Homo sapiens: one gene and its partners. The protein of the gene in region 3 interacts with the protein of the main gene of each other region in a biochemical or structural test. Each region holds a gene or a part of one and is shown on either strand. Other genes may lie near its edges. The genes, in order: MAP4K2, BAALC, MAP3K1 and DTX1.

The links.
Region 1: the proteins of MAP3K1 (region 3) and MAP4K2 form a complex in vitro, tested with the Homo sapiens proteins (one study listed by BioGRID).
Region 2: the proteins of MAP3K1 (region 3) and BAALC form a complex in vitro, tested with the Homo sapiens proteins (one study listed by BioGRID).
Region 4: the proteins of MAP3K1 (region 3) and DTX1 form a complex in vitro, tested with the Homo sapiens proteins (one study listed by BioGRID).

The regions. Positions count from the first base shown.
Region 1 is NC_000011.10:64,800,197-64,807,600, reverse strand, and holds the start of MAP4K2 (mitogen-activated protein kinase kinase kinase kinase 2), read left to right. Parts: upstream 1-4,386; 5' UTR 4,387-4,451; coding exon 4,452-4,547; intron 4,548-4,658; coding exon 4,659-4,716; intron 4,717-4,947; coding exon 4,948-5,038; intron 5,039-5,117; coding exon 5,118-5,182; intron 5,183-5,479; coding exon 5,480-5,535; intron 5,536-5,843; coding exon 5,844-5,891; intron 5,892-5,979; coding exon 5,980-6,022; intron 6,023-6,417; coding exon 6,418-6,490; intron 6,491-6,569; coding exon 6,570-6,701; intron 6,702-6,774; coding exon 6,775-6,837; intron 6,838-7,208; coding exon 7,209-7,290; intron 7,291-7,384; coding exon 7,385-7,404. Other genes in the region: MEN1 (menin), read left to right, coding at 1-49, 382-422, 503-590, 1,233-1,369, 1,588-1,713, 1,831-1,966, 2,403-2,567, 2,785-3,267. UniProt on the Homo sapiens protein: Serine/threonine-protein kinase which acts as an essential component of the MAP kinase signal transduction pathway.
Region 2 is NC_000008.11:103,135,810-103,143,734, reverse strand, and holds the start of BAALC (brain and acute leukemia cytoplasmic protein), read right to left. Parts: upstream 3,011-7,925; 5' UTR 2,838-3,010; coding exon 2,678-2,837; intron 2,482-2,677; exon of another isoform or gene 2,393-2,481; intron 1-2,392. UniProt on the Homo sapiens protein: May play a synaptic role at the postsynaptic lipid rafts possibly through interaction with CAMK2A.
Region 3 is NC_000005.10:56,888,533-56,895,550, reverse strand, and holds part of MAP3K1 (mitogen-activated protein kinase kinase kinase 1), read right to left. Parts: intron 2,021-7,018; coding exon 1,871-2,020; 3' UTR 1-1,870. UniProt on the Homo sapiens protein: Component of a protein kinase signal transduction cascade. Activates the ERK and JNK kinase pathways by phosphorylation of MAP2K1 and MAP2K4. May phosphorylate the MAPK8/JNK1 kinase.
Region 4 is NC_000012.12:113,051,850-113,059,736, reverse strand, and holds the start of DTX1 (E3 ubiquitin-protein ligase DTX1), read right to left. Parts: upstream 3,008-7,887; 5' UTR 2,793-3,007; intron 2,289-2,792; 5' UTR 1,545-2,288; coding exon 1,286-1,544; intron 1-1,285. UniProt on the Homo sapiens protein: Functions as a ubiquitin ligase protein in vivo, mediating ubiquitination and promoting degradation of MEKK1, suggesting that it may regulate the Notch pathway via some ubiquitin ligase activity.

The DNA of each region.
Region 1 (7,404 bases), on a different chromosome or scaffold from region 3:
TTCCATTGACCTGCACACCGACTCGCTGGAGCTTCTGCAGCTGCAGCAGGTGAGGGCTGAGCCAATGGGGCAGGACTGGGCTAGGCCAGACTTGACTTGCTGTGGGACCCTGGGCAGGGGCACTTTCCCTTCCTGAGCTTCAGCTTCCCCTCCTGGAAAAATGGGTTAGTAATTCCTGGCCTGGCCTTTCCCAGGGCTCTTGGGAGAGTAGAATTGAGATGTGAAATTGCTTTGACTCCATTAAAGGGCTGGTCCCAGAATTTTGGCCCTTCCACATGGTGGGTGGTCCCTGTTGGTTCTGACCCCCACCTCTGCCCGATAGGCTAAGGACCCGTTCTCCTCCCTGTTCCGTGGCTCATAACTCTCTCCTTCGGCTCCTAGAAGCTGCTCTGGCTGCTCTATGACCTGGGACATCTGGAAAGGTCAGTAGAGGGAAGTGGCCAGGCTGCGCCTGGTGAGGCCGGGGGGCTGGGTGGCAGCCTGAATTATGATCCTTTCCTAGGTACCCCATGGCCTTAGGGAACCTGGCAGATCTAGAGGAGCTGGAGCCCACCCCTGGCCGGCCAGACCCACTCACCCTCTACCACAAGGTGGGGGCATCTAAGGAGGGTGCAGAAGGGAGACCCTAACAGTGGCTGAGGCAGGGGCCCTCATCTGGGCAGATGAGAAGAGAACTTTGTGTGTTGGGGGGTATCGCCCATCCAGTCTCACTTTGTGTCAACTGTGTGCAGAATCAGTTCAGTCAGGGCTGTCTGAGGGGTGTCCAGGGTTCCCCAGCCTGGGAGTGGCAGGGGCTGCATTTGTCCCCTCAGCCCTGCCTTTTCTGCCACTGCTTACTGTCCTTCCTGGAGTATAACAGAGGTCAAATGTGGCAGGAGCACTGATGAAGAGGGGGTGTTCACTTGGTGGGTGTAGGTGGGGAGGAGGGCCATTGGGCTGGGCTTGAAAGTCTTTGGTGATGTGTAGAAGAGTGTCTGAGAAAGAGAAGGGCCCTGAGCTCGGAGGGCAGGCCCCACCCCTGCAGTCTGCCCCAGGCCTCAGCCAGCAGTCCTGTAGACCCAGGGAGGAGACCAGGTAGAAGGGCTGGCAGCGAGTGGAGGTGGGAGTGGAGATGGAGAGGACTCCCTGGGATCTTCCTGTGGCCCCTTCTGGGTGTGCCCTGGTGGGGCATTTGTGCCAGCAGGGCAGCTGGGGCTGCCTCCCTGAGGATCCTCTGCCTCACCTCCATCCAGGGCATTGCCTCAGCCAAGACCTACTATCGGGATGAACACATCTACCCCTACATGTACCTGGCTGGCTACCACTGTCGCAACCGCAATGTGCGGGAAGCCCTGCAGGCCTGGGCGGACACGGCCACTGTCATCCAGGAGTGAGGATCCCCCTACTAGGGCCTGCAGCCTGTCCTTTCTTCCCCTCCATCAGTTTCCAACCACCCTCGTCCAGGACTGAGGCCTGGCTCCCACGCCCCATCCCCTTTCCATCCAGTCCCTAGGCAGCAAGGCCACCATTACCCAGGAGGTAGGGACCCTGATTAAGGTGTCACATCTTTCCCTCCCTCCCCTCTCCTCCTAATTTTTTTTTTCTCAGAACAGTCTCAAATCTCCAATGTTTAACCACCATCATCCAGCAGTGGGACTTCCACCCTCGGCCCCATGCCCCCCTCCTCATTCTTGCTTTCTTCCTCTGGGCTGACCCAGACAGCATCATTTTGCAGTGAGGACCCCACCTACTCCCCCAGCCCCTGGGGGCTCCATCCCCCGCCAGGTCCCTGGGGCTACCCCCGATGGTGAGACCCCTTCAGACCCTACAGAGACCCCACTGCTCTCACAGCTACAACTACTGCCGGGAAGACGAGGAGATCTACAAGGAGTTCTTTGAAGTAGCCAATGATGTCATCCCCAACCTGCTGAAGGAGGCAGCCAGCTTGCTGGAGGCGGGCGAGGAGCGGCCGGGGGAGCAAAGCCAGGTGAAAGGCTGGAGCTCCAGCCTGTGTCCAGCCTCCCACCTGGACAGGGCTCCCTTCCACAGGCCATGGGGGCTGCATGTACGGGATTAGGGATGGCAGGAGGAAGGTGGCCCTGAGCAGACAGCTATGTTCCCTTTTGCTATAACTGAGGTCCTGGGCCCACGTTGGACGGGACTGAAGGTATTTTAGAGGTTTCTACCCTGTGCCTTCAGTTTCATGGCCAGACTCCCTCCCTCAGCTGAGGGGTGGAGGTAGGGATGGTACGTCCTGGCTATGGATTGGCTTTATAAAAGGAAAGAGGTTCTAAGAATGTTCCCAACCTATGCTTACCTTTTCTGGAGCCAGGGGTCTTTGCCTAGGTGGGGGGCCTGGCCTGTGCCCTCTGCTAAGGGGTGAGTAAGAGACTGATCTGTGCCCTCCCTTCCCCCTCGTCCAGGGCACCCAGAGCCAAGGTTCCGCCCTCCAGGACCCTGAGTGCTTCGCCCACCTGCTGCGATTCTACGACGGCATCTGCAAATGGGAGGAGGGCAGTCCCACGCCTGTGCTGCATGTGGGCTGGGCCACCTTTCTTGTGCAGTCCCTAGGCCGTTTTGAGGGACAGGTGAGGGACAGCTGCACAGAGGTCTGGGCACTACAGGTGGTGACAGCAGCCACGGGCTTGTCAGACTTTTCTGGCCCAGGGGCAGCATCTGCCCATCCCCTTGGGTGCCGATGGGACTGAGACCCCCTGGGTGGGATGGGATGGCCAGAGCAGGGTCCTGGAGTTCCAGCCACTGGCCGGCAACCTTGCTCTCACCTTGCTCTCCCCACTGGCCCAGGTGCGGCAGAAGGTGCGCATAGTGAGCCGAGAGGCCGAGGCGGCCGAGGCCGAGGAGCCGTGGGGCGAGGAAGCCCGGGAAGGCCGGCGGCGGGGCCCACGGCGGGAGTCCAAGCCAGAGGAGCCCCCGCCGCCCAAGAAGCCAGCACTGGACAAGGGCCTGGGCACCGGCCAGGGTGCAGTGTCAGGACCCCCCCGGAAGCCTCCTGGGACTGTCGCTGGCACAGCCCGAGGCCCTGAAGGTGGCAGCACGGCTCAGGTGCCAGCACCCACAGCATCACCACCGCCGGAGGGTCCAGTGCTCACTTTCCAGAGTGAGAAGATGAAGGGCATGAAGGAGCTGCTGGTGGCCACCAAGATCAACTCGAGCGCCATCAAGCTGCAACTCACGGCACAGTCGCAAGTGCAGATGAAGAAGCAGAAAGTGTCCACCCCTAGTGACTACACTCTGTCTTTCCTCAAGCGGCAGCGCAAAGGCCTCTGAACTACTGGGGACTTCGGACCGCTTGTGGGGACCCAGGCTCCGCCCTTAGTCCCCCAACTCTGAGCCCATGTTCTGCCCCCAGCCCAAAGGGGACAGGCCTCACCTCTACCCAAACCCTAGGTTCCCGGTCCCGAGTACAGTCTGTATCAAACCCACGATTTTCTCCAGCTCAGAACCCAGGGCTCTGCCCCAGTCGTTAGAATATAGGTCTCTTCTCCCAGAATCCCAGCCGGCCAATGGAAACCTCACGCTGGGTCCTAATTACCAGTCTTTAAAGGCCCAGCCCCTAGAAACCCAAGCTCCTCCTCGGAACCGCTCACCTAGAGCCAGACCAACGTTACTCAGGGCTCCTCCCAGCTTGTAGGAGCTGAGGTTTCACCCTTAACCCAAGGAGCACAGGTCCCACCTCCAGCCCGGGAGCCTAGGACCACTCAGCCCCTAGGAGTATATTTCCGCACTTCAGAATTCCATATCTTGCGAATCCAAGCTCCCTGCCCCAAATAACTTCAGTCCTGCTCCAGAATTTGGAAATCCTAGTTTCCTCTCCTTCGTATCCCGAGTCTGGGACACAAAACTCCGCCCCCAGCCTATGAGCATCCTGAGCCCCGCCCTCTTCCTGACGAAACTGGCCCCGGATCAGAGCAGGACCTCCCTTCCGACCCTCTGGGAACCTCCCAGAGGTCCAGCCCATCTCGGAGCATCCCGGAGGAAATCTGCAGAGGGTTAGGAGTGGGTGACAAGAGCCTGATCTCTTCCTGTTTTGTACATAGATTTATTTTTCAGTTCCAAGAAAGATGAATACATTTTGTTAAAAAAAATATAAAGCGCAAGTCCATGTTTATCTGGGAAATTGGGGATGGGGCGGGGAGTGGAGCGCCCCCTCTTCCCTCTGTCTTCTGGCTCCCGGGACTTTGCGCTCCCTACCTGTGGAGCGCGAGCGACAGTGGCGGCGGAAGGACGTAGGCTCCGCCCCGGCCTTGGGGCTTCCCCGCGCCGCCGAGGGCCCGTCCCGCGGGCGCCTCCTCCCGGACTGGCGGTGGGGCATCCCCGGCGCGGCCCCGCCCCCGGGCCTCAGCCCCGCCCCCGCGGCCTCAGAGCCACGGGCGCCCGCCCCGCCCCGCGCCGCCCCGCGCCGGCTCCGCAGCTCGCGCCCGCCCGCCTGCCGGCCCGCCCGGCGCCGGGCCATGGCGCTGCTGCGGGATGTGTCGCTGCAGGACCCGCGGGACCGCTTCGAGCTGCTGCAGCGCGTGGGGGCCGGGACCTATGGCGACGTCTACAAGGTGCGACGGGACGGGCGGGAGAGCCGGGAGGAGGGTGCCAGCCCCGCACCCCGCGGCAGGATCTAGCCCCCGGCCCCGCCCCCCATCCCGCTTCACCCTCCGCCCCTGCAGGCCCGCGACACGGTCACGTCCGAACTGGCCGCCGTGAAGATAGTCAAGCTAGACCCAGGTGAGGGCCCGGGTCGGGCCTCTGCGCCAGAGGAAGGGCAGAGCGCCCGCGGGCGCGGGGTGCGGGCGGAGGGTTGACGTTTCCGAGACCCCTGAGAGGCGTGCCCCGGGAGGTGCTGTCACCTGCACCTGCCTGGCCCGGAGGGAGGCACTCTGTGCCCATTTTGCAGATGGGGGCACTGAGTCAGGGCAACCCCAGCGCGCCTTCCCCATGATGCTTTGTGCTTCCCAGGGGACGACATCAGCTCCCTCCAGCAGGAAATCACCATCCTGCGTGAGTGCCGCCACCCCAATGTGGTGGCCTACATTGGCAGCTACCTCAGGTGAGGCTGCCTTATCCTCCTGGCCCCAGGCAGCCCCCATGTGACCTGCTTTGTGCCCACCCCAGCTCTTTGTCCCTAGGAATGACCGCTTGTGGATCTGCATGGAGTTCTGCGGAGGGGGCTCCCTGCAGGAGATTTACCATGGTGAGGCCAGGGCTCCAGGCCCCAGCAGGCCCCAGCCTTCCCCCACCCCTACCCCACTGGGGTACCAGAGGGGACTCTGGGCCCTGGACTTGGGCTCCTCTCCACTCCTGCCTGGCTGTGTGACCTTGAGAGAAATACTGTCCATCTCTGGGTTCAGTATCCTAGACTAAACTGGGAGGGGACGTGGCCAACACCGCTTTCATTTAACAGTGCCTGCTGCTTTTCCCACACACGGTAGCCTGGGAGGGTGGGCATGACCCCCGGGCCCCCAAGCCAGCCTCTCCCTTTTCCTTTCAGCCACTGGGCCCCTGGAGGAGCGGCAGATTGCCTACGTCTGCCGAGAGGCACTGAAGGTAGCTGGGCCTGTGAGGTGCCCACACCTCTGGTCTCCAGAAGCTGTGGGCCAGGAGCCCAGATGACCAGCAGGGAGGCGGGTGGAGTGCCTCGGGTGGGGCTGGCCCGAGGGGCTGTAGGTCCTGGGGAAAAGGGGCCCCAGCCCTGTTGCCGGAAGCAGTCCATTTCCCTCTTGGCTCAGTCACTTCCTGTTTGGGGAGAGGGGAGGAAGAAGCAGCCTGAGTGGGGGGCCCCAGTCCTGAGAGGGGGTTTGGGGAGGTGGGACAGTGCTGGGTGGCTGCTCTCAGGGACTCCTCTTTGTCGCCAGGGGCTCCACCACCTGCATTCTCAGGGGAAGATCCACAGAGACATCAAGGTAGGCACCTAGCTGGGGGCACTCCTGGGGAGGGAGGAGGAGGCCCTCGGGGGCACCAGATGGGATTGTCTCTCCTCCATTCCCACAGGGAGCCAACCTTCTCCTCACTCTCCAGGGAGATGTCAAACTGGGTCAGTACCCTGGGGACACCATCAGGGTGAGGGCTCTGTGGACCCTCCCCGGCTACCCTGGACTCAAGGGTTGGGTGTCACTGGGCAAGTCACTTTGCCACTTGAGTCTCAGTTTCCCTGCTTAGAAGATGGAACGGTACTCCCTCCCTGCTGGAAAATAGAGGAGGTTGGGTCTGCACGGAGTTGACATGGGACCAGGCACTCCGTCAGGGATAGAGGGTGGTTGACCCCTCTCAGGAGAGGGACCTGGCCTTGCCTAGGGCCTGCGGCAGCTGTGACCAAGCGGGGCCACCTGCCCGTCTGAGCCCTGCCAGGTGCAGCCGAGCCAGAGCCCTGGGCGTGGGAGGGTGAGTGGCAGCCAGAGGGCTGGTGAGAGTGGCTGTTTCTCCCCACAGCTGACTTTGGGGTGTCAGGCGAGCTGACAGCGTCTGTGGCCAAGAGGAGGTCTTTCATTGGGACTCCCTACTGGTGAGGCTGCGCCTGGGGCGGAGGGGTAGGGGCCACAGAGCAGGGCACCCGGCCATCCCATCTGTGACCCCACCTCTAGGATGGCTCCCGAGGTGGCTGCTGTGGAGCGCAAAGGTGGCTACAATGAGCTATGTGACGTCTGGGCCCTGGGCATCACTGCCATTGAGCTGGGCGAGCTGCAGCCCCCTCTGTTCCACCTGCACCCCATGAGGTCAGCCCAACACTTGCCCCTCACCTGACCCTTGATCTGCGGCCTGTGGCCCCTGACCTCGCGCCCTCCACAGGGCCCTGATGCTCATGTCGAAGAGCAGCTTCCAGCCGCCCAAACTGAGAGATAAGACTCGCTGGTAAGGGCCACACCCTGCTGCCGGGACCCCCTTTTCTGTCAGCCCCATAGTGGACAAACAGCCTCTGCCAACTCCCGGGGGGCAACCCCAAGAGCCCTGTCCTTTCTGGGCTACTACAGACCATCTGAGTCAGGGGCCTGGTCCTTCTGTGGGTTGAAGACCCAGCGTGGTCAGGAAAGAAGGGCAGAGGGTTGGTGGAGGAGCCGCTGTGTCGCAAGGCAGCGTTGCTCGGCCAGTGGCCCTTGGCCTCGGCTGGCTCCTTCCTGGGTGGGCCCAGCAGACGCCTCTGGAGGGGTGGTAGGGCAGCTGGCAGGACACCCTGCACGAGGGCTAACCTGGATCTGGCGCTGGGGGGCTCTTGTGCCTTCTAGGACCCAGAATTTCCACCACTTTCTCAAACTGGCCCTGACCAAGAATCCTAAGAAGAGGCCGACAGCAGAGAAGCTCCTGCAGGTGGGAGGCAGGGGGCCGGGAGAGAGGCCCAGTACTCAAAAGCAGGGCCCTGGATCAGGGGCCAACCTGATCACCCCCCTCCCCCACTTTCCAGCACCCGTTCACGACTCAGCA
Region 2 (7,925 bases), on a different chromosome or scaffold from region 3:
CTCCCCTAGCCCTCAAAAGTCCTGAAGTAGCCAGGAGAAAAGGTGGCTTCAGTTTGACACCAAAGGAGAATCACTAAGGTCCCAGAAAGAAGGGATTCTTGGGAGCTGAGGGTAAAGTCTGTGAGTGGTTGAAGGAGTGTTCAGATGGGGATGATTCCCCTGAGAGTCTCATTTGACTCACGTGGCTGACTTCCAGAGACCTTCTCCAGCTCTAGAATTCTAGTAGTGAAGCCATTTTTGTTGATTTCACAGTCTGGACTCTCCTGAATCTACTGGCTCTTTCATTTACTCCTACCCACCTCTCCCATCAGAAAACAACTTCTGTAAACAGGAAAAAGTGGCATTCTGGCCTCCTATCACAACGCAGCCACTGGGGGCTGTTAGGTGTCCCCCAGCAGCTTGGGAGTAAAATCATGAGTAAAGCACTGGCAGGGGGTGGGTGAGGTGGAAGTGAGGGGGCAGAGAAGATGAAAGGAATACAGAATCCTGGCCAGTCTCCCAGGGTGGCTGAAACCCAGGAGATCTGTAGCTTTCACGGATGACCCATTCTGACTAAAGATGACCAGCTCCCAGTCTGAAAAACCCACAGAAGTCAAGCCATTCCCAAAGGCCCTAGGGAATGCCAGTACACCCCCAAAGAAGGCCTTGATTTAATCTTGGTCTTCAGAAATATCCCTCTCCCCTGAGGCTAACAGAAATTCCCAGGGAATTAAAATGACCCTGCCCATACAAGCGTCTTGCCAATTTCAGGGTGCTGTCCTGGGGCTGAAGTGGAGCTTCTCCTCTGGAGGATGCAGGCCTTCAGGACCACCTCTCTGGCAGGGCTGGCCCATGTTTGGCAGGGTACCATGAATGAGTGTGTCTGTCCCAGGCCCCACCTGTTGCAGTGACCAGATCTCATGATGGATGGGATATGAATTAGTATGGCAGAGTAATAAATCAAGGAGTGTCAGGAAAGTTGTGAGGAACATGTATGTACATATAGAGCCATCCCATAATAACTCTTTCATACCCATACATATGCATATACGCACATACACACACACACCATATACTCCCAGTCACCACGGCAACCATTTCTTAAAGCTGTACTTACGGGGTTTTGGTTGTTTTTTATTATTATTTTTTTCATGCTAGATCTTTTCACCCTTATTTCTTCGGAGTACATCTCTGGCCTTTGACTCTCTGCTGAGAAGTACCATACCTCCTTGGGAAACCCTGTCACATCTAACATTTACCAGGTCCCTCTAAAAGGCTCATATCTATCCTCATGCTGACACTGAATTCAGCCAACACACCATTTGGTGACTTGCTAAAAGCATTGGCAATACAAAATAACCATTCTGATTGCCACTGTGAGTCAGAAAAACTGGAGACAAATATAGTGTAATGTATTGTACAGCTTTCACAGACAGTCCTCAATTTTAAAATAAAACCAAGTCACAAAGTTAATGTGGAAAAGGAGCCAGCTTTGGTCCTTAAAAATGGAGAAACCTATTCTTGATTAAAGTGACAGCTCTATTTAGTAGGCATGGATTTAAGATTCTTAACCTTGTAAAAGTAATTCGCATTTCCTTCCTCTTCCATATGTTATACATTATGCTTCAAATTAACCCTATTTTCCATTTTAGATTTCATTATTCAAAAATGCCAATAATATCAGTGGGTGAAGAAACACTTAAAACATTTTTATCCAAATATTGACCTTGCTTTGGACAACATCCATGTAATAAGTAGTGAGATTTTTTCCTTTTAATGTCACCAATATGTTTATGATTAAAGGTCAGTCTGTGGCAACAGTTTGCATCTCTGCGCTATAATTACTTGTTCTGCTAAAAAATAAAAAAATAAAATAAAATAAAATCCTGACTTATGACCTGACCAGACAATTCTTTGCATCTCCTTTTATCAGATTTCTGCTGGATGAGGAATGACCTAGGCAAGAGTATTTAATTTATAGTCAAAATCCACATGTGTGCCCTGCCTCCTGCAAAGCATTGGGACACCATAGGGTAGGGAGAGAAGTCCTTTGCTATGGAACAACTGCTCCAAAAGTAACCTAAAGTGCAGAACTAGCGATGGGGCGGGGTGCATTTATTTTGACCTAAACTGGGATTCTGGTCTTTGAAGCCCGCGAGTGGGCTCATTTCCTAGAGGGAGAAAAGGGGAAGCGACAAGAAAGACTCCACCCAGGCGATCCCAGGCAGGCGCCTTGTGTATAAATCCAGGGAGAGAGGGGCACCAGGTGGCCAATGGATGAGAAGTCACCCGGCTGGGTACGCAGGTGGCCAGGGGATGGCAGATGGGCCAAAGCGGGGCGGAGGCGGCCCTGGGCGGATCAGGGGGTGGGTGGCTGAGGGATATGTGTGCGGAGGAGGTGGGCTGTCCTCCCACCCACCGGTCTCCCGACCAGCGAGCAAGCTTTGGACAAGGCCAAAGAGCATTGGGCTGCTGGAAGCTGGGGCATCGGCGCAGCCTTCGGTAAGGGGCTCTGGTCGACCCCACTCCCTGGGCTTGCATCTGTCCACTGATCAGTGGGCAGGTCCTGCCTCTGCTTCCTCCCAGCCACCCCCGCCGCGCCATCAATTCCTCAGGGAACCGGCTCCTCTCTCAGTGCCCGGGCCAAGGCGCCCGGGGTAGCGGGCGGGCGAGGGTCTGCAGGGGCCCGGCCACTTACCCGAGTGCAGGCCGCCCGCTTCGGGGCCGCTGTCCGGGGCGGCGGCGCTGGGCGGCGCGTCCGAGTCGGTGTAGGTGAGCCAGGTGGATTCTGTCTCCCGGGTCCAGCTCTCGTAGTAGCGGGGCTCGATGGCATCCGCCCGGCTCCCGCCGCAGCCCATCCTCCTGCGCCGCGGGAGCGCCCAGCGGCTGCTCGGCTGTCGGCTCTGGCGGCGGCTCAGCCCCGGAGGCGCAGCCCCGGCCCGCAAGGAGGCGGCGGCGGCGACATCGCGTCCCCGCTCCCGCCCGCGCTGCAGCCGCGCGGAGCTCCTGCGGTGCCCGCCGCCCCTAGTCCGGGCCCTCTCCCAGCCCGTCCCTCCTCTCCGCCTCCAAGGCCCTCCCTCCCCTCCGGTCCCCACCGCCCAGTCCTCCCTCCCAGCGCCCTGGCCGCCCCAAGGCCCCCGCTCGCCCGCCCCCTCCCTCAGGGCTCCGTGACGGCCCGGGAGCAGGAGCAGCGGCCCCGCAGCCGGAGGAGGGCTGGGGCTCCCGAGGCGCTCGGACCCGTCTGGCCGGCATTACCGTTCCCAGTCTCTGGCCCATCTATCCATCCATCCATCCATCCATCCATCCATCCGCTCACCCGCTCATTCATTCATCCATCCATCCATCCTTCCTTCCTTCTTTCCATCCATCCTGGAAAGAACTGAAACTCTTATCACGGGACCCCAGGCTTTCTGGCCACCTGTTACAAAAGCAATGGAACTGGGAGCAACCCCGCAAAACTGGTCAGGGAGTATTGCCACTAAGACTTAAGGAACAGTCAGAGCCTATGCCTGTCGTATCTGATTTGGGGAGGCAGGAGTAGGGCTATGATTTTTAAGAGAGTTAGGCTAGGCAGTGTCACTTACACCCCTTCCAGCTGTGGTACTTCATGATCCTCTGAACTTTAAACTCGAGAAAGCAATAGATCACCTGGAACCACGCAGCATCCTGAACCCCCTCTCTGGGCAAGGCTTGGAGGCATGGCCGGTCCCTTCAAGCCCAGGGTGGCCTTGACATTCCCGGGATCCAGTTGTCAGCCTTTCTTTTCTCGGTGCACCCTCAGGTCCATGCGGGTTCAGACCTAGAGCTCAGACTTGCGTAGGCCAATGAATTTACCTGTTCCAAGAATCCAGAACAGGTGGTGAAAGATGAAAATCTTCTTAGCCTTCAAGAGGGGGGTAGGAAAGGGAAGGGTTTGGAAGAATAACTCTTCAATGACCAAGCTCTGCTAGAATATGGTATTAAGTATCATATTCATTCATTCATTCATTCAATGTATATTTACTAAATTCCTATTGTGGCAAAAGACTGTTCTAGTAGACATAATACATATATAATATATTTTGTATATTATCCATTGTATGTAGACTATAGGGTGTGATGTTTAATATAGCATGTAAAGCATAGAGAATATAGTACTCATTATATCCTATATAATTTATAGAATGTACGAGAGTACATTGTCTATAACATTTAGCACGTAGCATCCAATAGGTAGGGCAAGTTCAGAGCATTGCCTGGCACAGAGTAGGCCCTCAGTAAATGTCCAGTGAATTAATAATGAAGTATCTTTTTATAGTAATTTGATTCACTTAAATTATTGTAATTTGGGCTAAAGATGATCCAGTTGAGGGTAGAGCTGTCAGACATTCCTCTGGCAGGCACTCACCAGAATCCATAATGTGGAAGGGAGCAAAGATTCATGGAACTGTGGCCAGGGTCTCCTCCTCCTCATGCTGAGCGCAGCACCCGTTCGCACCCCAGGACTCAGGCTGGCCTCCTCTGCAGGCTTTGCTTCTCCTTTTGAGATGGCCTTGACAGGACTCTTCAACCTTGTTTTAGGTGTAAGGTGGAGGGAGTGCAGTTATCCGGGAAGTGGTGGCTTCCCTAGTCCTTTGGAATTCAGATGCCCTGTGCCTCTTTTCCTTCCCCCCTGAATATTTTGATTTCAGAAGAACCAGCTTTCAGGGAGAGAGAATACTTAACATCTCTAGCAGAGCCTGTGCTTTCCTCAGTTCTACGGCACAGTGCTCCTTTCATAACCAGCCACTTCGTGATGTCACCACCCAAAGAGCAGACAGACCAGAAAGAGTGTCTGAGTTAGACCGTCCTGGGGGAGTTCTAGAAAACGAAAGAAACTGAAAGAGCTAGAGCTTGGTGAGCACAGGAAACAGAGTAAACGTGAGGTGAAGTGGAGGGGTATCCTGGGGCCAAATAGAAACCCACATGCCCATATGTCTAAATTGTAAAAGCTATAAACCAAGTGAGCAAGTTTAATTGAAACATGGGCTGTCCTCATACCTTGACAAGTTATCTTCATAAAAACTTAAAAGGCCAGGTTCTAATGTAGAGTTCTCTCAGTCTTTGGAGTTCTGCACTGAACATGGCAGTGGGATTGTGGGTGGAATTGACCCACCCACTCCTCTTTCTATCCTCAGTTCAGTCCTGCTACACACGGGTCCTTGTGGGCCCATGGGTCTAAGGTCTGTCCATACTCCCCTCCCACAAATAGCTGCCCTTGGCCATCCCTCTGGCTGAGGAGCATGTGCCTGGGGGATGTGGTCTGCCCTCATGGGGTTTGCTTCCAGTACAAGCCCTGGAAGTAGGCTCAGTGGGTTTGGAGAAGAGAGTTGCAAGGTCTCAACTACCCAACAGGGAGGTTAGAAGGGGCTGAGACTCAGGCTCCAGGTACGTGCATTCTGTGATCCCTGGATTCCTTGGCCATAGAGAGGACCAGGGCTGGAGAACCAGAGTGGGACCTCTGGGGCAGGAGCCCAGAGCAGGGACCCCTCTTGCCAGGCCCTGTCTACTTACTTGAATGGAATTATGAACATTTCCAGAATACAGGAGATGGTTATCAAGTACTGCCTGGCTAAGGTTGAGTGTGGTCACTCATTTCACACACATTTCTGATCATCTATTGTGTATAGTTTAAGCTTCTTAAAGACAAAGATATGGTGACATGCTTGGAATCTTCAAAAGGGATTAACTTAATGCCTTCATAGAGTCAGTGCTCATCAAATGTTTGCCTAATGAATGAATAGCAAAAGACAAGGTGGGGATACAGTTAACAGTGCAATTTCAAGAGCCTGACTCTCTGAGTTTAAAGTTTGGCTCTGCTACTTAAGTGGATGGTCTTGGGCAAGCTACTTAACCTCTTTATGCCTCAACTGCATCGTCTGTAAATTGGAATAATAAATTGTGTCAGTATGTGTAAAGGGCCTCAAAGAGTGCCTGGCACATAGAAACACTCCATGAATGTTGCTATCACAACACTTTTGGGGCAACAAGCAACAATGTCATCTCTCTTCCTTAAGAGGGAAATCCCTGAAATTATTATGTCTTTTCACATGAGATAATGTTTGTGAATTTGCTTAGCACACTGCAGAAGTTTGGTAAATAGGTAGGTTTTTTTCTTTTCTTTCCTTTCTTTTTCCTTCCGTTATGATGTTACTGCTAACAACCTTCCTGCAAATAAATTTTTTTACCCCCATTTCTAAGTAATCATCATCGACAGAGCAGTTAGATTTTTTCATGGAATCTCTTTCTTGGCATTACGTAACACCATTGATTCAGAGAAATTCAGAAGCCAGAAAAAGTTAAAGAGCAGCCAATCCAGTCCTTTTATTTTACCAACTAGGAAATCGTAGCTCAGAAAGCTGTAAAATTGCCCAAGGTCACACAGGAAATGTTATCTCTGGCAGAGCTGAAGTTTCAGCCAGAGCTGGGGGCCTGTGGCTGCTGGCTCCGTGCTCTTTTAATTACAGCTCTTTAGTTGGGATTGAATTTTCTCCTAAACCTTCAGGAATAAATGTCATAAATTAAATGTAAATATGTAAAATGTAATACATTATCTTAAACCCTCTGTTCAGAATCTGTAGCTTGACTGGCATGAATTGGTTATCTTTTTCCATCAAGTTTGAAAGCAACAAAAAAAGAATTCTCCTAAGGAGAAATGCTGCAACAGGGCATTGGAAAGCCTGAGCCAAAGCCATCCAGAGCAATGAAATAAATTACACCTGTAAAAACTACTGCAGAGTGGTATTTGCTATATGATGGGATTCTCAAAATAAATTCTCTCTGGCTTTAAGAACCCCTGTGACTGGTACCACCTCTGGCTCATTTCTATGGAAACTGAAGCAAAGGCCTGTAGTGCTTCTCCCTCCAAGGTCTCATTTCTGTGGCTTGGCATCACTGGACTCTACCCGACTATTGTGAGCTGTAGAAAACAGACCTTCAGTAAGGCGGACAATCAGGACAGAACAGAAGGGTTAGCAGGAACCTAAACCTGCCTTTAGAATCAGCCATCTGAAAAGGAGTAAAGATAGATTCACTGCCTTACAAGTTTCCATCTCTTTCCAAGTGAAAAAGTAGCATAATTGAAGAACAACAGTAGCAATAATTCTGGCCAACAGGGTACAGATCCTAGGTAAATCTCTTTGGTCTTGAATGCCAAATCTCAGCAAGTTTCCCCACTGCTACAGATTCAGTGAACATACCAGAACCAGAGCTCCGTGCCCACCCTCTGAAGGATTTTAAAGCAGTTTCCACAGAGCACCCCTCCAGGTCCTCGATCTTGGCTAGTTGACACATCCTCATTGATCCACAAATTGTCATTTAGATGTAAAGGAAGAGGGCTCAAAGTTAGCACCCAAAAGCACAAGATCCAATTTCGTTCCCCACATCTGGAGAAAAAAATCAGAAAATATCATTTGACATGAGCTCATTCTTGCATCTGTTGCCTTGAAGAATGACTGCTTTCCCCAGGGCATGAATGGTACACCTGGAATCCAGGTGATGTGGACAGATCGGGTAAACATCATTACAGAGTATAAACAAGAAAGGAAAGCAAATATTACAACAGCAAGAAGATAAGTGAGTTTTTTATTTGGTTTAAGAGGTTAGAAAAGGTGAAAAAGGGAATGTTGCAGAAAAACAACAAAAGGAAGTAATTGAATATGTTACAACAAAACATTTATATAGAAAATGAAGTTTATATGTGGAATTAAACACTGTAGAATTAATTCACCACTAACCCTAAAATAAATTGTTCTCATGAGAAAAGAGGCTGGCTCCTTTAGGTTAATTCTAGAGAGATTCAGCAAGTTCTTTCACTGATTGCCAAACTTAAGAGTCTATCTCAGTCCCTGGATTAATGTCCTGTGGCACTTTATCATACCCCAAATTAAAACACAGGACAAAGCAAATTTTTTCGGGTGTTTCCCAGT
Region 3 (7,018 bases):
CTGATTAGCTGAGGTTCCTCAGTTTATACAGTTTACATTTTTGTCAGACACAGTATTCATCTGACCAATGATCTTCCAGTACATAAAATGGCAAGAGTGCATCCTTTAAAGCTTGCACATGAGAGACTTGGAAACAATCTTATTAGAATTGTGAAAATTCTAAGTAGTCAAAAAAAAAAAAAAACAAAATAAAAAAGAAAGTCAAGTACAACACATTTAGAGATACCAAACTTCACATTTCTGTACTATTTTTAACTCTTCAAATATCGCCAATCTTCCAAAACAAAGGAATGTAAAATTTCACTAAGAAACATATTCACATAAAAAACAAACTGCCTTTTAAAAATTGTAAGCAATATATCCCTGTAAACTTATCTTGTAACTTATTTTATTTCCAATTTGTGTTGTACATTTTAAATGTACTCTATATATAGCTTATTTAGTTTATCCTGAGTCTTTGAGAATAACCAATTCTATTTCACACTGGCTTCTGAAGAGTTAAAACTAAAATCTCAAAGTTGTACTTAATAGTTAATCAGTACTTGATTTAAAAGACTCACACACACACAAAAAGATTAAAAAGCTACCATTTTCCTTCAGGATTCCATGCATCTGAATTTAACTCCAGACTAAAACCGTTAGGTAACTGTGCAAAATCCAAGGAATTAGTGTATAAATGAAATTCAATTCCATTTTTCTTTCTGAACACATTTTCCAAGTTCAAAGCAAATGTACTGTTTAAAAACATTACTGATTGGTAGTTGAATAATCTTTTTAAAAAATGATCTGCCAGGCCTACTGTAAAGAGATGATGCATGGTAAAAGGAAAATGGCAGCTCTATGTTACTACCAGTAGTGAAGGTGAATGATGGATTGTTACATACAGAGTAAGACTTAAATGTTGTGAAGTTTCCTACAGTTTGACAACCAAAACATCTAAAAAATTCAAATAAATTTTAAGGTAATCTTGATCTTGGTTGTGAGTTGCACCAGAGAGGACAGTTTATTTTTAGTTAACTTGTACTTAACCTGCACAATAAGAGTGGTGACTGACTCAAATGTAGGTAGTACTTTATTGTATTCCAATTTAAAAAAACAAAATTAAGTCTATATTTTAAAAACTCTGACAATAGCAAGATATTTAATGAACTCTACTTCATATCTAGTTCATTTTTTTTTTCTGGTTTGAAAAAAAGATCAGCTTTCCCTGAATAAACAAAAATGAATGTAAATAAACATGAAAATACAAAACCATAATTTCCAAAAACGAAATGAATGGGCCAACAGTAAAATGCACAATGAGCCACAACTGCCCTGGTATTTAAGAAAATAAAGGTCAACTGTGGGTCATAAAGAAGTATCAACTTTTAAAAATATATGTATGTATTGCTACTCATAGCATACTCTGACCTAAAAGAGGCAGATACTGATTTTATAGCCAGTGACAAAAAATTTGAACGGAATTGCAGAACCCCCTGCTTGTGATCACTATATGAAATGGAAGAATAATTGAAATATTAAAATAGATCCTGAGCCCCTCAGCCGCTAATATTGCTGAAAAAGTGCTCCAAAAAAATAAAATTATGCTTCTGCAATTTAGTCATGCAAACTTCATTGTTTTCCTGTTCACCTAGGGCCAGTTCTTTGAAAGGCACAGTTTACAGTTTCTGCACTAGTTTGGGCTTTTGCATACTGAGCTTAGGTACAGATCATGATTTGTCAATCACATACTTAGGTAAGGGTTCCCCACTGGCCTCGTTCATAGCTGTTCAGTGGCATCATGGCCAGTAGAATATCAATGTGGTTCCCCACAAGTTTTTTTTCTCTTGTTGAGCATCCTGTTTCTACTGTAGTTGATCTGCATAATTGGCTACCATGTAGTACGAAAGACTGGATGCTTCAGTAGCTCTCTTGATGGAGGTCTGTCCTGAGGTTGAAGTTCTAAACAACGAAGAGCCACATCTCGTAAACCAGGAGACAAATGTGAAGGGATCGATGGAGCAGTAGTTGCACTAGCAATCTGTGGAGAAAAAGCCAGTGTTGAAGCTTTGCACAACTGTAACTTCTGATACAGAAACACATGTGCATAGACCTCATAACCCTTACATTTACATCCTGAACAGAGAGGAACTGAAGCAGAAGTGGGAGGATTTTCTGCTATCAAAAAGTCTATGAAAAAATTCATCCACTGGATGGGAGGTTTTCTCTAACAATCTTTCAAATTTTAGGATTTTAGGATTTGATCAAATATATCCTATTCCTTATTATTTACATCAACAAGGCTAAGTACATCAAAATGTTCAGGTAGATAAAGTATTCACTCAAATGAATTCTGCTGTCCTCATATTCAATCTCCGAGATGGTTTGTTCTTACTGCACGTTTTCTATTTCTTCAGCATACAGAGCTATTTAGATTAAGAAAGACTAAAACTGAAGAGTCAATTTAATACATAGAAAACACAACTGCATTGTTTTTTTCCTTCCGTGTTGGACAAATTCTGATTCTTAGTATCAAATACACTATGAAGAATAACTTTTTTATAAACAAATTGTAAGTCTGAATACTTTTTTTTTAAAAAAAAAGAAATTTTATTTGGTCTTATTTGTAGTTTTTCTAAAAAAATTCAAAATCTGATAATTATTTTTAAATTGTGATACACTCTTTACATTCTAAAATTTGTGCTGCAATAACCATATTTTAATTTCAAGTCATATATAAAAAAAAGTATTAGTTTTCTAACAATTTTTGAGCACCCATTATGAATCAGAGCTGACTCCAGGCAGAGATAGTGTCTTTCTTGCATATCTCCCTATTTGTGGTATCAATTTTCTTCTTCTTGAAATGCATTCCTAAAAATAATTTTTTTCAGTGAGTGTCTGCTGAAGGTAAACTTCCACAATTCTCATGTGTCTGAAAATATCTCTATTTCATTCTTATTTTTTGATGATCATTTAGCTAGCTATGAAATCCTAGGTTAACTGTTATTTTATTTCAATCACTAGAAGGTACAATTTGTCTTTTGAATTCTCTTGTTGCTGCTGTATTCTGTTATCCATATAATTGTTATCAATTTTTTTTCTTGTAATTTGTCTTTTCTCTTTGGTTCCTTCTTGTCTTTAGCATTCTTCAGTTTCATTAAGCTGATAAGCAACTTCAGCAAAGTCTCAGGATACAAAATCAATGTGCAAAAATCACAAGCATTCTTATACACCAATAACAGACAAACAGCCAAATCATGAGTGAACTCCCATTCACAATTGCTTCAAAGAGAATAAAATACCTAGGAATCCAACTTACAAGGGATGTGAAGGACCTCTTCAAGAACTACAAACCAGTGCTCAATGAAATAAAAGAGGACACAAACAAATGGAAGAACATTCCATGCTCATGGATAGGAAGAATCGATATCGTGAAAATGGCCATACTGCCCAAGGTAATTCATAGATTCAATGCCGTCCCCATCAAGCTACCAATGACTTTCTTCACAGAATTGGAAAAAACTACTTAAGTTCATATGGAACCAAAAAAGAGCCCACATTGCCAAGTCAATCCTAAGCCAAAAGAACAAAGCTGGAGGCATCATGCTACCTGACTTCAAACTATACTACAAGGCTACAGTAACCAAAACAGCATGGTACTGGTGCCAAAACAGAGATATAGACCAATGGAACAGAATAGGGCCCTCAGAAATAATCCCACACATCTACAACCATCTGATCTTTGACAAACCTGACAAAAACAAGAAATGGGGAAATGATTCCCTATTTAAGAAATGGTTCTGGGAAAACTGGCTAGCCATATGTAGAAAGCTGAAACTGGATCCCTTCCTTACACCTTATAAAAAAATTCAAGATGGATTAAAGACTTAAATGTTAGACCTAAAACCATAAAAACCCTAGAAGAAAACCTAGGCAATACCATTCAGGACATAGGCATGGGCAAGGACTTCATGTCTAAAACACCAAAAGCAATGGCAACAAAAGCCAAAATTGACAAATGGGATCTAATTAAACTAAAGCGCTTCTGCAGAGCAAAAGAAACTACCATCAGAGTGAACAGGCAACCTACAGAATGGGAGAAAATTTTTGCAATCTACTCATCTGACAAAGGGCTAATATCAAGTCTGAATACTTTAAACTCACCTATCCACTCCTAATCACAAGAAAACTCTCTTTTCCCTACCCCAGTAATTTCATAAATGCTTTGGGTTAAAAAATGCAAAGTAATATAAAGAAAAATCCTCTAAGGTCTGTGATCCTGTATCATGATATACTCAGCTGATATATACACATCTTACACACCACAAAAAGGAAAAATACAAAACAAAAAAAGTCCCTCTTCCTTCTTTTCCCCAAATGTAACTTACTGATGATTTGTGTGTGTGTGTGTGGGGGGGGGGGGTGTGTGTGTGTCTGTGTGTGTTTTGTGGAGGAAAAAAGGCCAATATATTCACAGACTTAAGATTTTCTAAAATGTCTACAAAAGAGAAAACTTAATTTAGAGACAGGGTCTCGCTCTCACTGTCACCCAGGCTGAAGTGCAGTGATATGAACATGGCTCACTGCAGCTTTGACCTCCTGGGCTCAAGCGATCCTCCCACCTCAACCTCCTGAGTACCCTGGAGCACAGGTGCGTCTCACTATGCCCAGCTAATTTTTTTTTTTTTTTGGTAGAGATGGGGTCTCGCTATGCCCAGGCTGCTCTCCAACTCCTGGGTTCAAGTTTTGTTCTTGCCTCAGCCTCCCAAAGTGCTGGGATTACAGGCATGAGCCACTGTGCTTGGCCAGGATCACTTTATATACCTTGCTCTTTTCACTTATTAATGTATCTTGTAGCACTTTGTAAATCAACACCAACAGCTTCATACTCGTTTAATTTCTGTATAGTGTGGATAATTTAATTACTTTCTTGAGTAGAGTGAATAATCCTGAACTTGGCACTTGGTACTTCTAGAGGTAATCTTGAGTAAATTCCTAACAATGGGCATAGCTGAGTCAAAGAATAAGTGCATTAAAAATTCTGGCAGATATTGCCAAATCACTCTCTAAAAAAACGTGCTATGGCAATTTATACTACCATAAACAGGGTATGGAAGTGTTTGAGAAAGCTTTGGGGTGCTTCCAAAAACCTCAAAGTATTTACTCCAAATTAAGGAAACTGAAAATGTTACAGTACAATTCTCTTTAAACTCTACCTAGGAAGGAGAATGCAATGAAATCTGTTAAAATATGAACTGTGCCAATTTGAAAATTATTTACAATTGTTTCCAGGGTCTCATCAAAACTCTTAAAATAACATCAAACTTTCAAATTGATCCTAGCCATGAGTATTTATTGAGCAACTTCTGTATAAGACTCTGGGAAGAAGAAAATGAATCAGACATGAATGGACCTCAAGGAGAATTAGTTTGAAAGAGGCAGCAAGATAGGAACATAACTAGCAAACAAGAAACAAAGTGTCAGAAACAAGTATGTACTAAAATGCTATGAGAATCTGGAATGAGTAAAAAGGGGGTGCCCAAGCAGGAGAAGCACAAAATGGGGGCCTTAAAGAGAATAAGAATTTGAACCACGTAGAGAACGGACATGGGACGTCTGAAAGAATAGAGGAAATGAGGTGATAATACAAAACAGGTATTGTCAGAGAGGTGACTGAGGAGGTTATATAATAAGTGTGGGGAGCACTGGAGGAGGTTATGGCAGGTGGAGCTGACTGTGTGGGCTGAGTGCTTGACTAAGGCCTAGGTATAATTTTGTTTATCTTCATAGTAATCCCACGAAGTACATGCTTCATGGGGTTCTTGCACCAATTTTACATGTGAGAAAATGGAGGGTAGACACAAAAAATAATTTTCCTATGATTACATGGCCATTAAGGGGTAGAGCCAGGGTTTAAAACTAGGTCAGTGTGACTCCAAAGCCCATGATTTCAACCATCACATCTACTGAAAAGCTAAGAATATCAACCATTACTTATTCTATGGTGGAAAAGGAGAGAATGGATTTGTGAGTTATAAAAAAGTAGGAAAGGCAGACAGGACTGAACTGACTTGGGTGTGAATTTTTAAAATATACAAAATAGTAAATTAGGCCAGGAGTGGTGGCTCACGCCTGTAATCCCAGTACTTTGGGAGGCTGAGGTGGGCTTGAGGTCAGGAGTTCGAGACCAGCCTGGCCAATATGGTGAAACTCCATCTCTACTAAAAATACAAAAATTAGCTGGGCATGGTGGCGCGTGCCTGTAGTCTCAGCTACCTGGGAGGCTGAGGCAGGAGAACTGCCTGAACCTGGGAAGCGGAGGCTATAGTGAGCTGAGATCGTGCCACTGCACTCCAGCCTGGGCACTGCAGCGAGACTCTGTCTCAAAAACAAAAACAAAAAACAAACGAACAAAAGAAAATGGTAAATTAGATTTTAAGATTTTTGAATTATGTAAAATGCATGAATTTCACGTTTTTAAAGTGATGGATGGATATATATACACACATACATATACATATAAACACACTACATATTTCTTCTAGAAGCAGTGTTTTAGTATTTGCTAATTCAATATTTGTAGCAACTTAACAGAGCATAACTACCTCAAATAACAAGAAGTGACTATGTATGTCACTAACATTGACAACACCATTGACAATATCAACTCCTGGAAATACACACATACACAGATGCTCTTCAACTTACGCTGAGGTTATGTCGTGATAAACCCCTTTTAAGTTGATGATATTTTTTTAAGTTGAAAATGCAGTTAATACACCTAACCTGCCAAACATTATAGCTTAGTCTGGCCTACCTTGAATGTGCTTATAATACCTACATTAGCCTACTGTTCCGCAAAATCATCTGACAACACAGTCCACTATAGAGTATTGGTTGTTCACTCTCGTGATTGTGTGGCTGACTGGGAGCTGTGACTCGCTGCCACTGCCTAGCATCACCAGTGTATCATAGCACATATTGCTAGCTCAGACAAAAATCAAAATTCAAAGTATGGTTTTTACCAAATTTGTATTGC
Region 4 (7,887 bases), on a different chromosome or scaffold from region 3:
GGTTATTACGTGTGGTTCTGTCATCCAGGGATTCATAGGAACTTCCCCAAACCCCATCAGCTGGTCCTTGGGGGGTCAAACATGCCAAGGATTTCTAGGCTGCTTCTGCACGGCAGGACCCCACCAGTCCCCACTGCCCATGGAGCTTGTCACAGATACCACCGGGCAATGACTCAGGGAGATCTCCCCAACGATGACAAATCTCCAGAACAAAAGAGAGTAGGCCTGAGAGTGGGACCTCATCGATTTTATCTCCATCATCAGCCATCACATTACCACCAACGCAACCATCAACATCACCATCATTACAACCACAACAGGATCACCAATACCACTAAGTAACAGCCACACACAGGGCTACCAGCCACACCACATGGCCACGAAGACTGCCACCAACATCATTCTCTCATTTTCTCCATCATCACCACCCCATCACACCACTTCCAGCACCACCACCAACACAACTATCAATGTCACCAACACCACTGAATCCCATGGTTAACGCTATCACTGACATCACCACCAACACTGCCACGTCACCATCATCCATCCCTCCATTGTCACCAAGACCCCACCACCATCAATACTATCACTGAGTCACCACCAACACAACCGCTAACACTGTCTCCTCCATCATTGCCACCTCACCCCACCATCAACACCACCAACGCCCCCCATCCCCAATTAATTACCACCAGCACGACTCCACCCCACAAACCAACACTTGGAGCCAGTATAGGATACCAGTTAAGAACTTTGGTTCTGGAACTCAACCGCCTGGGTTTAAATCCCAGCTCTGAGTTTAAATCACTCAGCTTCTGGGAGACTCGGTTTCTTCATCTATAAAATGGGACTCATAATAATACAACAATACACAGACTTACTGCCTGTGATTCTTGGGAAAAATCAAATGAGGAAGTGCATGTAAAGCCCTTATTCTACAATCCCATGCTACTGCTGTTCTAGGTTCTGTGCTCAGTGAGCACAATTTTATTTAATCCTCACTCAGCTGTGAGAGATATTGATCTACCCATTTTGCAGATGAGGAAACTGAGGCTCAGAGAGATGATGCAACTTGCTCAAGGCCCTACAGCTTGCTCAGAGGCTGCATTGGAATCCAAGTCTTAAACTGGACAAGGTTAGACTGCCCTGTTTTTCTGGAGGTGAGGCAGGGAGATGGGGAAGGGATTTGGCATCAGCAGATTTACTGGGATTTTCAGCATCCTACGCTGCAAGGTAGTGATGGCTCGGCGGGGCGGGTGGCATGGGGTGGGTGTCTGCTCACCTGTGTCCTGGCGAAACTGGTGCATGGACTGCAGGTCGATGATGTAGGGCACAAGCTGGGCGTCCACCTGCCCCAGGACCACGGAACCGCGAGCGTCCTCCTTCAGCACGTTCTCAATGTGGTGGCACACGGTGGCCGTGTAGGGCCGCCAGCGGCTGTGCTCATTCAGCCACTCCCACACCACCACCCGGGCCACGTTCTGCGGTGGGAAGCCCAGACCATTCACAGGCATCAGCCCACCGTGGCCTGGCCGTGACATGGCCGCCACTGCCTCAGGGGCCAGGTCCCCCACTATTGCAGGCCCAGCTCCTCCTGGGCCTGGCAGCAGGCGGCAACTTCCTCTCTCCCCAGGGGGACAGCAAGGACCGTCTGGCCTCCTTTCTAACTCTGGGTTCTCTCTGAGGCCTAGAGACCTCCGTTAAAGGAATGTGGGATGGCCATCCAGGCTGCAAAGACCCCTTCCCTGTAGAGCCTTCTCCGATAAAGGGTGCTGCCCTGGAAAGCAAGTGTCTCTCTTATGCCGGAGGAAACAGCTCTAAAGTCCTTGGCCCCCTCGGCTGGCTCAGGTAGGGAGTGAGGCAGCCGCCCCTGTTCGAGGTCCAGCCTCTTCCGTGTTGTCTCTTGGTCCCTCTTCCCCGCCAGACAGGGCCTGTCACCCAGGAGGCCTGGGCCACAGCCTGCTGCTCCTGCGGCTCTCAGCCAGCCCTTTGCACTCCCAACTGCGTCCCAGACCCTGCGCCCGGCTTCAGTGGGGCTTCTCGCCTCCCTCCGGTCTGGGCCCCCTTCTCCGACGGCTCCTGCCGAAGGGGGCGTCCCTGCCCCCTTGTTCCCTCTCCACGGTGTCCTGGAAGGCCTGGGTGGCCGCAGAACGCACGGGGGAGGGGTGCGGCGTGGACCCTCGGGCGGCGCGCCTGGACTGCGGCTCCGGAGCTGGGCTGGGGGACGAGGGGGACGAGGGGGGCGGGGGCCCGTGGGCACGCCCCACCCCACTCGTGCTCGCGACCTGCCAGGAGACAAGAGGGGAGAGGGCCCTTTAAGAGGAGAGCGCAGCACCCCCTCCCCCCTTCCCAGGAGAGCATTCGGCTGAGAACAATGGGGAACCGAAGGGGGACAGCAAGGGGGGCGTACGGGGTCGCCCCGCCCGCTTTCCCTTGGGGCAGGCCTGGAGGGAAGGCAGGGGCCGGGGGCGCGGTTTTCCGAGACTCTCCGCCTGGGGGGCGCCCTCCTTGGCTCCCGGAGCCTTCCCTTCCCCCGGGGCCCTCGCCCTGCCGGGGGGATGCCGGGTGCGCTGGGGTGCGCCGGGAAGCACGGGGATGCGCGGCGCTGCAGGCGCGGCCCAGGGCCCCTCGGGGGTCGCGTCGCGGAGGGGGCGAAGCCAGGAGCTGGATCGTCTCTGCCTCCCGCCCTGGGGGTAACAGCCCCGCTTCCCCAGCCCAGACGTCCCCGAGCCGCTCGCGGGCCCCCAGCGGGAGCCGGGGGTGGGGTCCCTAAGCACCCGCGTTCTCACCGCCTCTCTTCGTCTCCGGCTCCGGCTCCGGCTCGCGCTCCAGCACCGCCGCCTCCTGGGCTCCCCCCGGAGTGGGAGGGAGCCGCGGTCCCGCCTCCGCGCCCGTTCCCTCCCAGGCCCCTCGGCCGCCGCGCCGAGCTTTCCGCGCGTGGACAGACTGCCCGGCCGACGGACGGACGCAGGAGCCGGCTGGCGGCCGCCGGGATCTCGCGGGTGGGAGGAGGCCTCGGCCGTGCTCCGGGAGGGAGAGGGGAGGGGGCGGAGGAGGAGGAAGGGGAGGAGACAGATCTCGGCCCTGAGCGCCACCGGCGCTGACACGCGAGTCTCGGGGCGCCCCAAATCCTCGGCCAGGCCCTCCCGAGACCCCAAGGGGCCTTCTGACCCCAAGCAGAGCGTGAGGCAGGGAGTGGGATGTTTAGGAGTCACCGGCTTGAATCTTTGTCATCTTTATTTCCAGTCTCCCAGTCCAGGGCCTGGCACTGAATAGGTGCTCAATAAATGCTTGAATGAATGAATAAGATCCAGAGACTGTCTAAAGAAAGATCTTGAAGCATTCAGAGCTAGCCTCCTTTCCTCCTCTAACTATTCCTGGGGGTGGGAGGGTGCTGACAAGGCCTGATTCAGACTCAGTTGGAACCGTGGAATCTGAAGAGTACAGATGAGGAGACTGAAGCCAGAGAGAGTAAGAGCCAGGCCCAGGATCACAAAAGCTTAGAGCGATGCCCAGACACCAACCCCGATCTGAATCTCCTGCCAGTACCCAGTTCCCAGCCCTGAGCCCACTTCCCCCAAAGCACCCACCTGCTCCAGGTGAGAGGGGTGGGACCAGGGGAGGGGACCCTGGCCAGGAGGTGAGATCCTGGAGGAAGAGAAGGGCAGGCCCTCTGCCATGTCATTCACAGCCACCTGCAAACAACTGGTGCTCAATAAATGGTGGGTGAGCATTGGTTGGATGGAAGGGAAGGCTGGAAATGGCAGCGGCTCAAGTGTTAACGGGATGGCCAGTCCCCCTGTCCTCCAGCAAGCTGGATGCGGCTGAGACACACATTGGCTGGGAGGGGGGTGGACCACCTGGGGCCTGGGGGTGTTTAGATTGGGGAAGATGAAGGATGCGTCCGGGAACTCCAGCCTGGGTGGCTGACGGGGGTCAGTGGCCTGTTTGGGCGCCTGCCCAGAGCAGCCCACGCCTGCCTCCCCGGGGCAGATGGGGATACACTAGGCAGGGTCAGGGGCAGGCTGCTCAGGGGTGCTTTCCCAGAATCCAGCTCTGGCTCTCCGGCCAGCTGGAGGGACCTCCCCTCCCCAGGCCCCTGCTCTGACCTGCAGCCCAGTGTTGGATGGGCTTTTTCAGATTGGGTCAATGATTCTGCTTGCTTTCACCTGCTGTAGACTAAAGAGAGAGGCTTTGCATAGGGCAGGGCCAAGTCTGACGATACTCCCACAGGATCACTGAGTTCTGGGATTTTAGCCTAGGGTCCCTGGATGGCCTTCTGGGGTCCATGAAGTCCCCCTCTCCCATTACAGGCAAACTTGTGTGTCTAGGCATTGTGTGTCTTGTATGTCTGGGAAGAAGGGCTCTGGCTGTCAGCAGATTCTTCTCACAGGAGACTGTGACTGAACGGATTCAGAGCAGGTGCTCAACCAGCTTATGTTGTAGAAGGATCTGGGGATCCCACAGTGGAGAAGAGATTGGCTCAAGGTCGCATGGTGATTTAGCAGCAAATTGGAAAGAAGAACTCGTGTCTCTGGACTTCCTGTCGAATGCTATTTAAGGTCTGATTAAATGTCACCTCCTCCAGGAAGCCTTTCCTGAATTCACCCCATCTTCCTCTGTGTTCCTTTGCCCATACCTTGACATGACACCCTGTATCACAATTAGCCTCTTAAATGAAATCTGTCCCTGCTAGAGTGAGATAGCCATCATATTCATCTTGGTGTGGTGTGGCTGGTGCCCCATTACATAAGGGTGTCATTTACTGAGTGCCTATTATGTGCCAGGCACTTAAATAATACTTACTACTCTTCATAACTGCCCCACAAGGAAGGTAATGTTGTCCTCATTTTACACAAGGAAACAAAAAACCTCCTGAAGCTCAGAAAGGCTAAGTAGCTTACCCAAGTTCCCACAAGGAGTAAGTGGCAGAGCTAGGGTCTGAGTCCCAAATGCTTTTGCACCTCCCATAGCACCATGCTGCCTCTGTGTTTGTTGAGTGACTACTGGATGGCACCCAGCTGAGGATCTGGTGCAGAGTGGCCCTTAATGGCCCCTCTCAACTGGGTTTGGAACATCTGGGAATGCAACACTCTGCTCCCAGGGAACTTGGGGAGAAAAGAATTCCAAGGAGAGGGAAGGAATTTGGCCACCAAGGAGCCCACAATTCATGGGAGGGATGGCTCAGATACCAATGGGGAAGTCAATAGGACAAAAGCAAAAGCAATCAATCATGAACTGTTTTTTTTTTTTTGGTCCATTGAGGCATTTTATTCATATGAATTTATTACATCCCTAGAAAAACAATCCCAGGATTTTCCCTCCTGTGTATTTTTGTCTTGCTTCCTTGCAATCCCTGATACCAGCTGAGGTTGTCAGGACAATGAAACCAAAGGGGATAGGGGTACCATTTTTCTAGATCTTTGAGTTGCACATCAAACTGGGGCTTGTCACTGTACACTTGTTTAACCTGCCTGTGAGGTCCACAGTGATTTTTCTAGCTCTGTGATTATTGATGATTGCAAATTCACTGATGTAAACTAAACTTCATCATCACACTTAGAAACTAGATGATGATTTTGGAACACAACCTAAAACAACCTGGTATTTGCTTCTCTTCTCAGCATGTTGATGCTATTGAGAACACTGGCCAGGACGTTCACATGCACCATTATAGCAGCTCAGAAAGATGGCAGAAAGAGACCAACTCATTTTTTTTGTTCTGCCATCCACCATCCACTTATCCATCCACCCGTCTATCCATTCATCTATCCACCCATCCTCCATCCATCCATTCCACCCATCCATCCACCCACCCACCCACCCACCCACCCATCCATCCAGTCATTCACCCATCCACCCACTCATCCATCATCCATTCATCCATACACCCACCCACCCATCATCCATCCATCAATCCATCTATCCATTTATTCATCCATTCATCTATACATTCATGTATGAAATTTCCCACCTTCCTTGCTTCCCTTCCTCCATCTCTCCCTTCCTTCCTTCCTTCCTCTTTTTATTTTTATTTTTTTAAGATGGAATCTTGCTCTGTCACCAGGCTGGAGCACAGTGGCGCAATCTCAGCTCACTGAAACCTCTGACTCCCTGGTTCAAGTGATTCTCCTGCCTCAGCCTCCCAAGTAGCTGCAATTAGAGGCACGTGCCACCACGCCCAGCTAATTTTTATATTTTTAGTAGAGATGGGGTTTCACCATGTTGGCCAGGATGGTCTTGATCTCCTGACCTCATGATCCACCTGCCTTGGCCTCCCGAAGTGCTGGGATTACAGGCATGAGTCACCGCACCCGGCCCCTTCCTTCCTCTTATCCACTTATTCATCCATCCATCCATCCATCCATTCATCCAAAAAATACCAGATGCCCTCCTATGTGCCAGGCACTGGGCTACGTGCTGAGATAGAGAGCTGACACCAGCAGCATGGTCCCTGCCCTCCTGGGTCTCAGAGTCTAGTGAGGAAGTCGGACATGAATCAAGAATCACACAAAGTCTAATTCCAAACTTTTGCAAAGACTATGAGGGAAAAGTACAGGATATCGTGAGGACATCTAACAGGGGTCTTATCAGGTCTAAGGAATCAGGGAGGGCTTTTCAGAGGAGTTGATGTTTCAGCCACTCCCTGAAGGATTCATAGGTCTTAATGTGGCTGAGTGGGGTAGGAGGGGGAATGATTAAATCAGAGGAAACAGGGATGTGCAAAGGCCCAGAGGTGGGAAAGCGCTTGGTGTGTTAAAGCAACAGAAAGGAGACCAAGTAACCACTGAGAAAGAAGAGGGGTGAGCCTGGGGCCAGAAGAGGCAGAGCTACCATGCAGGGCCTTATAAGACCCAGTGTGGGTTTGCAATTTTATTCTAAGAGTCATGGGAATTACTAAAAATTTGATGTGATTTGATTTGTGTTGGAAAGAGCCTGGAATTAACTAGACTTTATTGAGTACCTACTGTATGTCCAGCCCTGGTCTAGGTACAGGAGAGTCTGGAAGGGGACACAAAACAAGATGAGTAACACTGAAGACCGTATTAGGGGCATGTGCATTAGGGTATGAGCCCTGGGAGACACATGCCACCCCTGTCCCCAGCCTGTGGAGCCGAGTGAGTTAGGCTTTTTTGAGCCCTTCTCTCCAGCCCTCTACATTCTTCTGTGCAGACCAGCTGTGACCTCCCCTTCAGCAGTTGAGAAAAAGTTTAAGTGGAAAACAGGAAACAGAGTGAGAAGGACTGTTTGGGTGTCTCTGGGGACTGAAATGGGGCCCCTGGAAGTCAGAGTGTTCCTTGGGCCTGTAGGACACTGGTGGGGTGCGAGTGGTGAAAGGTCTTTTGCTGCCTGCTGAGAATGGGCAGTAGAATTGGAGAAGCCTCAGAAGGGTGACATCCACAGCCGGCTTTGCTTAGCGAGGAGGGTCTGCAGGCCCAAGGTTAAGGTGGGCACTGCTCTCGTGGCCATGTGTGCAGGTCATGGTTCCTGGGAGCAGTGTCTCCCCATCACCAGGCAGAGGCTGGTTCCAGGTGAGCACAGATTCATCCCAGGGTCTTGCTCTGAAATTCACATACAGCCGGAGTTGAAAGCAGCTTGAGCATCTATGGGCGAGATGGTGAGATGAACGCCCTCCCCACCCCAGAGCACTGGGTCCCACCCTGGATTCATGTGAGAATCTCCTGCAGAGTGCATACAAATTACCCATGTCCAAGCCCCACCCTCAGAAACTGATGTAGTTGGCTGGGGGGTCCAGGTATTTGTAGGCTTTGGCCAATGGTTCTTTCCCTGGATTTAAGGGATTAAAACTGAGAGATGGTTGTCAACCTGTCTCTAGGTAGTTGGGCTAATCATATGTGATATTGCGAGCTTTTAGGGCCCATT